Linked DNA regions of Homo sapiens: all the other regions are reported to be linked to region 3. Evidence: microRNA targets listed by miRTarBase, many of them from high-throughput screens and not tested one by one. Region 3 holds a microRNA gene; each other region holds the end of a gene's coding sequence.

Evidence for each region. The annotated mature microRNA hsa-miR-193b-3p reads AACUGGCCCUCAAAGUCCCGCU and lies in region 3 at 1,001-1,022, shown strand. An mRNA with a match to its seed (bases 2 to 7 or 8) in the 3' UTR can be bound and repressed. Matches are read on the target gene's strand: a 7mer-m8 pairs with bases 2 to 8, a 7mer-A1 pairs with bases 2 to 7 and ends in A, and an 8mer does both.
Region 1: miRTarBase lists RNF146 as a target of hsa-miR-193b-3p. Seed matches in the 3' UTR shown: 7mer-m8 at 2,364-2,370 and 7mer-A1 at 2,129-2,135.
Region 2: the mRNA of C2CD2 is a reported target of hsa-miR-193b-3p. Seed matches in the 3' UTR shown: 7mer-A1 at 1,761-1,767.

The regions. Positions count from the first base shown.
Region 1 is chr6:127,287,344-127,290,343 of GRCh38, reverse strand. RNF146 (ring finger protein 146) reads right to left here. Exons shown (of 3, transcript NM_001242850.2): 3 at 1,782-3,000. The coding sequence ends at 2,651. It overlaps ECHDC1 (ethylmalonyl-CoA decarboxylase 1), which reads left to right. Exons shown (of 6, transcript NM_001002030.2): 6 at 67-1,632. The coding sequence ends at 475. Among named protein-coding and RNA genes, the nearest start is that of RNF146, 22 kb to the right of the region's middle.
Region 2 is chr21:41,886,445-41,889,797 of GRCh38, forward strand. C2CD2 (C2 calcium dependent domain containing 2) reads right to left here. Exons shown (of 14, transcript NM_015500.2): 14 at 1-2,900. The coding sequence ends at 2,680. Among named protein-coding and RNA genes, the nearest start is that of PRDM15, 8.8 kb to the left of the region's middle.
Region 3 is chr16:14,303,017-14,306,369 of GRCh38, forward strand. MIR193B (microRNA 193b) reads left to right here and starts at 951; the gene lies at 951-1,033. All of the region lies in intron 1 of MIR193BHG (MIR193b-365a host gene), which reads left to right. RefSeq lists silencers at 1-88, 1,042-1,091.

The sequences.
Region 1 (3,000 bases), not on the chromosome of region 3:
GATAGTACTTTATGATTAGAGCATACAGAGAGAGTTACAATTAAGCTTTTCTTTTTTCTTTTACAGGTTAATGACTCCAGAGAGTAAGATCAGATTCGTCCACAAAGAGATGGGCATAATACCAAGCTGGGGTGGCACCACCCGGCTAGTTGAAATAATCGGAAGTAGACAAGCTCTCAAAGTGTTGAGTGGGGCCCTTAAACTGGATTCAAAAAATGCTCTAAACATAGGAATGGTTGAAGAGGTCTTGCAGTCTTCAGATGAAACTAAATCTCTAGAAGAGGCACAAGAATGGCTAAAGCAATTCATCCAAGGGCCACCGGAAGTAATTAGAGCTTTGAAAAAATCTGTTTGTTCAGGCAGAGAGCTATATTTGGAGGAAGCATTACAGAACGAAAGAGATCTTTTAGGAACAGTTTGGGGTGGGCCTGCAAATTTAGAGGCTATTGCTAAGAAAGGAAAATTTAATAAATAATTGGTTTTTCGTGTGGATGTACTCCAAGTAAAGCTCCAGTGACTAATATGTATAAATGTTAAATGATATTAAATATGAACATCAGAATTACTTTGAAGGCTACTATTAATATGCAGACTTACTTTTAATCATTTGAATATCTGAACTCATTTACCTCATTTCTTGCCAATTACTCACTTGGGTATTTACTGCGTAATCTGGAACATTTAGCTAAAATATACACTTTTGGCTTAAAAATTATTGCTGTCAATTCCAATAATAATTCTTAGCTTATAACCAAAGAGCAGTGTTTAAAAGGAGAGCTTCTATACAAAACCTATTCCTGGCGTTACTTTTCATACAATTTTTGTTCTGTTTTACCTGGAAATAATTTACCAAAATAACTGAGTGTTGCTGCTAAAGAACAAAAGTGGGGAGGTATCAGGGAACAAGAAAACAAGAAAGGGTATGATCAATCATTTTCTTCTGCTCCAAACAGCTGGAGTAAAATTCATGGGAAATGGCCCTTCATTTAAAAAAAGATGTACCTCACTACCCACTACAAATTTGGAACTTTGTTCTTTTCAATAATTAGTTTTCTATTGTAAATTACCTACTAAACAGTGGTAGCCATGACATGGAAAGTCAACTGATTCTACAATTGGACATTCATTTGTGTGCCCTGGAATTTCCAACTAGTAATAAACAACTACTGTTGATGTAGTTTTAAACCACTTGAAGGGACTCATGAAGCATCCTGCAACATAAATTTGCATTTTTACATCAGATTTCTTTTTTTTCCTGAAAAACAACTAACCTTCTAACAACTATCTTTCAAAAGTAAATGTAATAAAAATGCACAACATAAAATGTTTATGATCCCAGCAATACACTTTTTAAAAAATGTGAAAGTCAAAGAATTAAGTTCTAGTTCTGACTCATCACAAGAGGTCAAAAGTATTTGCTACTGTAACATTCAATTCACATTTGAGAATCATGGTAAAAATAACTTGCATTTGCCTTACCATCATGATCCTACTGTTGAGTTAGGAAAATATGGTTAGACAGACTCACATTACTTTTTTTCAGAGGTAAACTCTAGATTACTGTGTCAACCCAATACTATTTGGCCATAGATGTAAAAACTACCAAATAAAAGTGGATTTTGTGGTCTACAACATTTTGTGTAAAGTGAATTCATGTCTGCTAACACCGTTAAGTCTGCCATTTAATCCAGAGTGTTAGACTACTAATGAATATGGTAAGGAAAATATAAAATATTAACGGTATATGCTATTTGAGGAATTTTAAGTCTCACAGGCTTTAGTTTTATTTCCATACATGTTTATTATATACACACTGCCTATAGATTCTGTTTAAATAATCTCTAAGAAAAAAATCAAACTTTTCTGAGCAGGTGATTAAGCTGAAAACAACCAATTAAAACCACCACTTTTTAAGTGACCTTTGGTCACAAATGTCAAAATGTTTCCACACCCTTTCCACCCTCAAACAAGAGACAAACTGTTTTTGATAAACTCTAGTATTTATTAAATTATAAATTTTGTAATCAAAAAGAAAAATGCAGACCAAAAAAACCTCAAACTATAAGACTAGACAGCAAAGCCTATGGGAACACCATGAAGTGTGTTACAAACATTCTGAAACATAAGTTACTGGCTGTTTTCATTTCCATTTCAATAACTTTACTATAAAATAGTTGTTATTCATCTATTTTGAAATCCCAAATTCACATCTATTCATACATTAAATTATGTTTCCTGTTCATAATATCAAACATCTCACAGGTGCCAAATTTTAGTAATGGTCTTATGCCAATCCATGCAGAAAAATAAGACACAATGCAGGAGTCAGATGAGGACCATTAATGCACAGATAATACAAACACACTGGCCAAAAGAACTACAGAAGTTTTTAAAAAGTATAAAGTAAACAGACCTCAAGAAAACTGGGTTATTACTAAACAGCTCTCAACTATTAACACCCAAGTTCCTTACATTAAATAAATTTCTCAACAGAGACATGTTAGACATTTTAATTATGAGTCTATCCTTCCCATACCCCTTCCCACCCCAACTCCCAAAATGCACTACTAGGGATGAGTATAATGTTATGTGGGCAGAAATTTACAGGTAACCCTTTCAACCTTGAGCATGGAGCTGAAGACATTTTTATTTAAACTTCAGTTACTGTGCACTGTCCATCAGGCCTTCTAGATCTGACACTGACACTCACTGTTCCACCCCCTGCTACTGATCGATCAGTTCCCGATCGATCTGATCGATCGGGTACTGTCTGGTTTGCATTAGAAACCAAAAGTCTCTGTTGGGTCAAGGAGTGCTGTGCAACAACTGCAGATACATCCTCACTATCACTACTGGCATCTGATTCAGTTTCTTCAATGGAGGTGTCTGGTGCTGGTACCCTGCCTGAAGATGGTGATTCATGATCTTCTTCTCCTTCTCCCCTATGACTCCTTTCAGCTGTGTTGTCTCCACTGAGTTGTAAATGAGCAAAAGAGTCTT
Region 2 (3,353 bases), not on the chromosome of region 3:
CCCATTTCTCACGGTGCTACCCTGAAGCTAGCCGACGTGTTGCCTTTGCCTTTGCTTCATAAACTCCCTCCCATGTTGGTGTTTTCTGTAACTTCAGAAAAGGCCATTGGATGGAGACAACGTGTGCGTGTCTACAGGAAGCAGAGCCCTAGACCTTGGTATTCAACAGTAAGCAGCGCTCATGGGATTCATCTGGAAATGGAATAGTTAAAACCTTTTTTTTTTTTTGAGAGCAAGAAGGCTTAATATAAAATCCTGGGGCCGGCCTGGTGGCTCATGCCTATAATCCCAGCACGCTGGGAGGCCAAGGTGGGTGGATCACCTGAGGTCAGGAGTTCGAGACCAGCCTGACCAACATGGTGAGACTCCATTTCTACTAAATAGAATTAGCCAGGTGTGGTGGCGCGTGCCTGTAATCCCAGCTACTTGGGAGGCTGAGGCAGGAGAATCGCTTGAACCAGGAGGTGGAGGTTGCAGTAAGCTGCCATTGCACTCCAGCCTGGGCAACAGAGTGAAACTCCATCTCGAAAAAAAAATTTTTTAAATAAAAAAAAACTTCTGATATCCTTGCACTTGAATAGAGTGCACCTGAATTCCAAAATCAAATAAAAAAGAACAATTAAAAACTTCTCATCAGTGTCTGAAATTCTGACACATAATATCCTCTTGGAATTCTTAAATATGTCTCAGCCTCTTTTTACCACATGGCAAAGAGCAGTAAAACTTCAAGTAAAACATTAAAGTGAACATCTGTCCCATCTGTCCCAAAAGACTAACAGTGATGCCTGACTTTGGGGACAGAAACTTGGTAGTATTCACATGTTTTGAAACTCCAGGTGCTTTTTTTACAATGATTAAAACTGGAATATAATTTTTAAAAACAAAGCAGGTTGGAAAAGTCATTTTAAAGTCACTTGATAATTCCTGGAACACCTAAGAAGTTTGTAATGCGCATTTTAAAGTGAAATTCCTAATGTCGTTTTCTAATCTCTCTCTCTAAAAAAGAAGAAAAAAAAATCCTATAATTTTGGTTTTTATACAGGTTTTTACTAAAAAAGAAAAAAATCCTATAATTTTGGTTTTCATATAGGTTTTTACTAAAAAAGAAAAAATCCTATAATTTTGGTTTTTATATAGGTTTTTACTAAAAAAGAAAAAAATCCTATAATTTTGGTTTTGATACCGGTTTTTACTAAAAAAGAAAAAATCCTATAATTTTGGTTTTTATATAGGTTTTTACTCACCAGTGGCTCTATTACCCCCGAAATATTTAATGTTTAAGGATTAACAAGAGGCTACGGAAGGAAGCTTGCCCATTTCCGTCTCCATGACAGAAGCCAAGCTTTCGTAACAGCCTTTTACATGTCTTTGGAGAAAAGTGAATCATATTAAACTGTCAAGAACACTTCACCCCAATGATGACTGCTCTTTGACCAGCATGTCTACTGGAAGTGGCACATTCAGAAGTGAGATCTGTGAATGAACTGAAATAGAAAGGCAACTGATGAGGAAAGCGACTGGAATGATATTAGGGATATTCAAATGGTGTGCCAGGTTTGTGATGTTTTCCACCAAAACAAACCCAAACAAGGGCACCCCAACCTGTGTCCAAGAGGACTGTTCACAGCAAAATTCTGAAGCGCTCATAGAAGGAATGTCCTGCGAGTTTGGCCCATTTGTTATTAAACTTCCATTCCTAAGACTGACACCTGAGACACAAAATAATTTCCTCTATTGCCCTAAAAAGACTTTGTTTTGGCTACTGGCAGCACTTGGCAAAATCCATGTATGTGTTTGGTTACTGTGTTCTACGAGCGGTCACGTATGGCTCCTGACTTCATCTGACAGGCCCGCTGTGCTCTTGTTTAGCAAGTATGACAGGCAGGAAAAAAAACCCTGGATGTCAACTGCTCCACTAGCATTATTAGAGCTTTTAACACGATAGAGAAAAATGTAAAAACCATGTGAGAATATATATATCTTCCACTTGCAAGTAGGCTCAAAGTAAACTTAGAAAAGTGTTCTGCATACTATGCATAGGATATAGTTAGTGTTCAAGTTCTATGGCTAATATCAAAGGTAGATGACTTCCTACATCTGTCGTAGCGTCTCCATTCTTATCAAAATTTCTCTATTAATCCAAAATCCTGCCTATGTTCCACTTCCCTGTACTCAGGGCCAGCTGCATTTTTTATTCCAAGCAGCAGATGAAGAGAGGTGACCCATCCTTTCCATTCACAGTGACAGCACAGGGGGGCACCTCCTTTTTGTGACATGGTCCAGGCATGGACCCAAAACAACACTTGTTAGTGTAGAATAGGTAAACTAAGTCCCTCAAACCTGCCCTCCACAATCTATTAGAGCATATTATTTCACTTATAATGTTAATCTCCTTCTAATATTGAACCCTAACCCTTAGCTATGAGCACAGCCCAAGCTCTGCAGCTGTCAAGTCTCATTTAGCATCTGGTGGCAAGTTGGGCTTTTTTGTCCTCTCTGGGAGAAGCCTCCTGGCTGGAGACTCAGATTTTGTTTTCCCTTTAAATGACGAGATGGTTGGAAGAAACCCAGCAAGACAAGCGGGGCATCTGGACATCCGGCGGACACACTGGCTGCGTCCTGGTGAGGGTAGTTAACATGGGTGCACGTCTTCTGGCTTGGAGGTGATGACCTCAGGCCCTACGTGCAGGGCTCCACGGGGGCACCGTTCATGGTGTTCTTGTTTCTGTGCCTGGAGAGCAGCTTCTTGTTCAGGATCCTGGTGAGGGTGATGCCTTTCCTCCGGGAACCCTCTGGCTGCTCCAGGAACACAAGGTCATTGTGTGACTGACTCATGCCTGGGTCTTTCTGTTGATGCCGCCGGCGGAAGAACAGCTTTGCACCTTTCCTTAGAATTCCTCCTGGAAGAGGGAGGCACAAGGGCTGGTCAAGTGGGCAGGGAATGAGGGGCTGAATGACTGGTCCAATCGGACAAAGGGAAAAGGAGGCTCGAATGCCTCTAACGAAGGGCCAGTTTACTACTTCAATATGCTGTCACTACCTGCATGAGAAAAATAACTGGAATCTGGCTTGTACAAAACGAGAGTTTTCAAGATGAAAAGGAAACGAGATTATAACAGTAGAAGCAGTAAGCCTGAACTATCGCTTGATATCCCTTTCTAAGGCCGATATTTATATTCCTGAATTTTTTTTCTTTTTTTTTTTTGAGACAGAGTCTTGCTGTCTGTCGCCCAGGCTGGACTGCAGTGGCGCGATCTTGGCTCACTGCAACCTCCACCTCCAGGTTCAAGCGATTCTCCTGCCTCAGCCTCCCAAATAGCTGGGATTACAGGTGTGTGCCACCATGCCTAGCT
Region 3 (3,353 bases):
GGCGGCGGCGCCTGCGGGGGCCGGGCCCCGGGGATCCCGGACTAGCCGGGAACCACCGTCCCCAGAGAGTTACCGCCGCCCCCTAAAGTTGTCAGCTCCCTCCCCCCGAGAAGCAGGCAGCCCTGGCGCGTTGGCTTTAGCTTCTGCAGGACGGGGGCAAAAAAACTAGGTTCCGGGGTGCGGAGCGGGGTGTCTGTGCCCGAGACAACACCAAGTTAGGAAAAAGAAGTTAGAAAAAAAAAGAAAAAGGCATTTTGATTTGGGGGTGGGGGGAGTGGCGTTTCTGGTTTCTCTTTGCTTCCAATCCCCACCAAGCGGAGCGTTGGAATGCGCCGCTTATGTCCTCTGAGGACACATCCATATTTATAATTTATTTTTAGGAGAAGTTGTGAAAAAGGGAGGGGGGTTAAAATGAGGAGAAAAGGTGCGTGGGGGAGTGGCCTTTCCAGAACCTAGAGGCTAATTAAGCTATTAAAATGGAAATCATTTCCCCCAACTTGGGCGCGCAGCAAATTTGACTTTAATGAGAGACGATTAAGGACACAAATAACCAAACTTTATTTAGCTGGAGATGGGGTGGGGGGAACTGTACGAGGCACCTCGGACACCCGATTTATCCGCTGCTAAGGGACGTTTGGGGCACCCCTCGTGTTGTCCGGGAAGCTTTTAGGCCTGTTTGCTGGGCGAGATTGGTGATTGCTCCGGGAGGGAAGAGACACCCCGGGATCAAGCGATCCTCTTGCCCTCAGCCATGGTGTGGCAAATGTCCCCTCCTCCCACAGCGACCCCCTGGCATTTTGGTGAGATGAACCGCCGCCCTGAGGGAACACCCAGTAACGATTCCTTCAGTGATCCCGGTTCTCCAAACTCTTGCCTCAAAGGCGGCCTGCCCCGGTGCTGTCAGCCGTGAATGGGGACTCACTTCTTGGGAAAAGAGGCTTTTGGAGGCTGTGGTCTCAGAATCGGGGTTTTGAGGGCGAGATGAGTTTATGTTTTATCCAACTGGCCCTCAAAGTCCCGCTTTTGGGGTCATTCTGGACAGCGAGGGACTCAGGCCCCGGCAGTCTCGGGAGGGTGAGGGCAGAGAGCTACCACCCCCAGGGAGCGCGTCCAAAACCCGGCTGGCGGGGGGGCGGGGAAAGAGGGGGAGGTTTGCTACTTTCCATAAAACTAAAAGGTCCCTTCGAGGGCGGTATTCTTATAAGTGTGTGTTCTCAGTTTGCCGAACCTACTGTGTTTTCCAAGGGCTTCTCTCCTTGGGAGGCCGAAAAACGATACAAGGAGGAGAAAGTACATTCCCCCTGACCACCCCCACAGTGGTTTAAGGGACAGTATTGGATTGGAAAGGAATTAGTAGGATGTCAATTGTGGCAAAGTGTTTGAAGCCCCCAAATAAGGCGCTCCTGAAATGATGAATTGTAACGACATTAGATTTGTCTTTACGTTTGCTAAATTAGGAGAAACCAGCTGTTTGCTTCCACCTGGAATTGCAACATTTCTTTGCAACTCTTTGCTGTTGAAGGCGTTCTTTTTGTTCTGTTTTGTTTTGTTTGTTTGTTTGTTTGTTTTTTGGGGACAGAATCTCGCTCTGTCCAGGCTCTGACCAGGCTGGAGTGCAGTGGCGCGATCTTGGCTCACTGCAACCTCTGCTTCCCGGGTTCAGGCGATTCTCCTGCCTCAGCCTCCCGAGTAGCTGGGATTACAGGCGCCCGCCACCACGCCCGGCTAATTTTTTTGTATTTTTAGTAGAGACGGGGTTTCACCGTGTTAGCCAGGATGGTCTCGATCTCCTGACCTCGTGATCCGCCCACCTCAGCCTCCCAAAGTGCTGGGATTACAGGCATGAGCCACTGCACCCAGCCAGGCGTTTTATAGAAGGCTGGATAATACGTTCAGGGGAAGTCTCTAAAGCAAGGGTAGTGTGTATAAATCCCCGTCGCAGAACATTAACCTTCAGTTGTGTGTACACACACACACACACACACCCTATATAGTTGTAACCTATATAGACTTTCACACATCCTAAGTTATTTGCAAGTCTAGATTTAAATTAAGTCTACATAGCAGGGAATAGAAAAGTGAGCTGTACCTGGAAAAAACCTTTGAACACAGCGTTCTTGATACAAGATTTAGGATTTGAAAGACATGGCACATGTACACACAGATGACATTTGTGCTGCCTTGGCAAAAACAGTTCTTTACTTCCAGAGTTCTTTCTCTTTAGTATGGGACACGATGAAACAGCACAATTTTCAGGAGTCCACAATTCCAGCGAGGCGCGTGGATGGGAAATTGTCACGTTGTGAATTGTGTTTGTGCTTTGCTAAATCGCCACCCGGAGCTGACTGTCAAATCCTATTTGCTTTGCTAAATAAGGATATCTCATCAAATTAGCCTTTAATGATACTTCTACAAATAGGGTGTTTTACATGAATTAACGAGGCCGGAACACTGACTGTTTCTCCAAGATACTGAGCTATAATGGAGGCGACGAAGCCGAATGTTAAAATTACTGAATTGTTAAGTGTGCAAAATCAGACAGAATTTAGTGCTAAATGTGAAACAATTTCTGCTTTAATGGTGAGCATTCGCAACAGCACAAGCATTACTTATATTCAGCCGTCTGAAACTGTGCATGTAATTATGAATACATTTAACAAACTTTAACCCCCCTCTGAGTCTGGAAACAGTCTAGTATGGTGAAGAGATTATAAATCAGCATTTTGCAGTGAGAAGTCATCATTAATTCAGCAAAGAATCACAGCTTCTTTTCAGATCCTTCCCACCACCCTCCTACACACCCCCCTCAACCAATAAGGAAAAAAAAAATTCAGCATGGAACTGCTGGATACACTGAATATATTTTGGCTTTTCTCTTTTTGCCTCTGTGTGAGAAACTTCATTAAGCAGTTGCTGTTCCCTCCCCACCCCCGCTAACCCCCAAAGAAGTGTGGATTTAAGAAAAAAAAAAACAAAAAACAAGCAACTTTGAATTTTGTTCTTAGCAATCCCCAAGCCATAGCTGATCTCAGAGAGGCAAAAAAGATGTTTCAATAGAAAAGAATACGGTATGGCCAGGAGTAAAATATTTAGAGGTGGTTCTGCAATGAATATGATACTTCCTTAAAAATAAAATATATGTTGGTGATTCAAACCAATGAAAGTTGGAAAAGTCCCTCCAAGGGAACACTCTCTCTGTTTCCCTTCCCAGCAACCCCCCAACTTAACGTTATGAACAGAAAGATGGAAATTCTTGCCAGATCAACTATAGCCTCCTAACGATCAGCTCACCCTCCTTTAATTTTGATTGTGGAGCAAATACAGCTATTTTAGCCATGAGGATAAAAATGAGT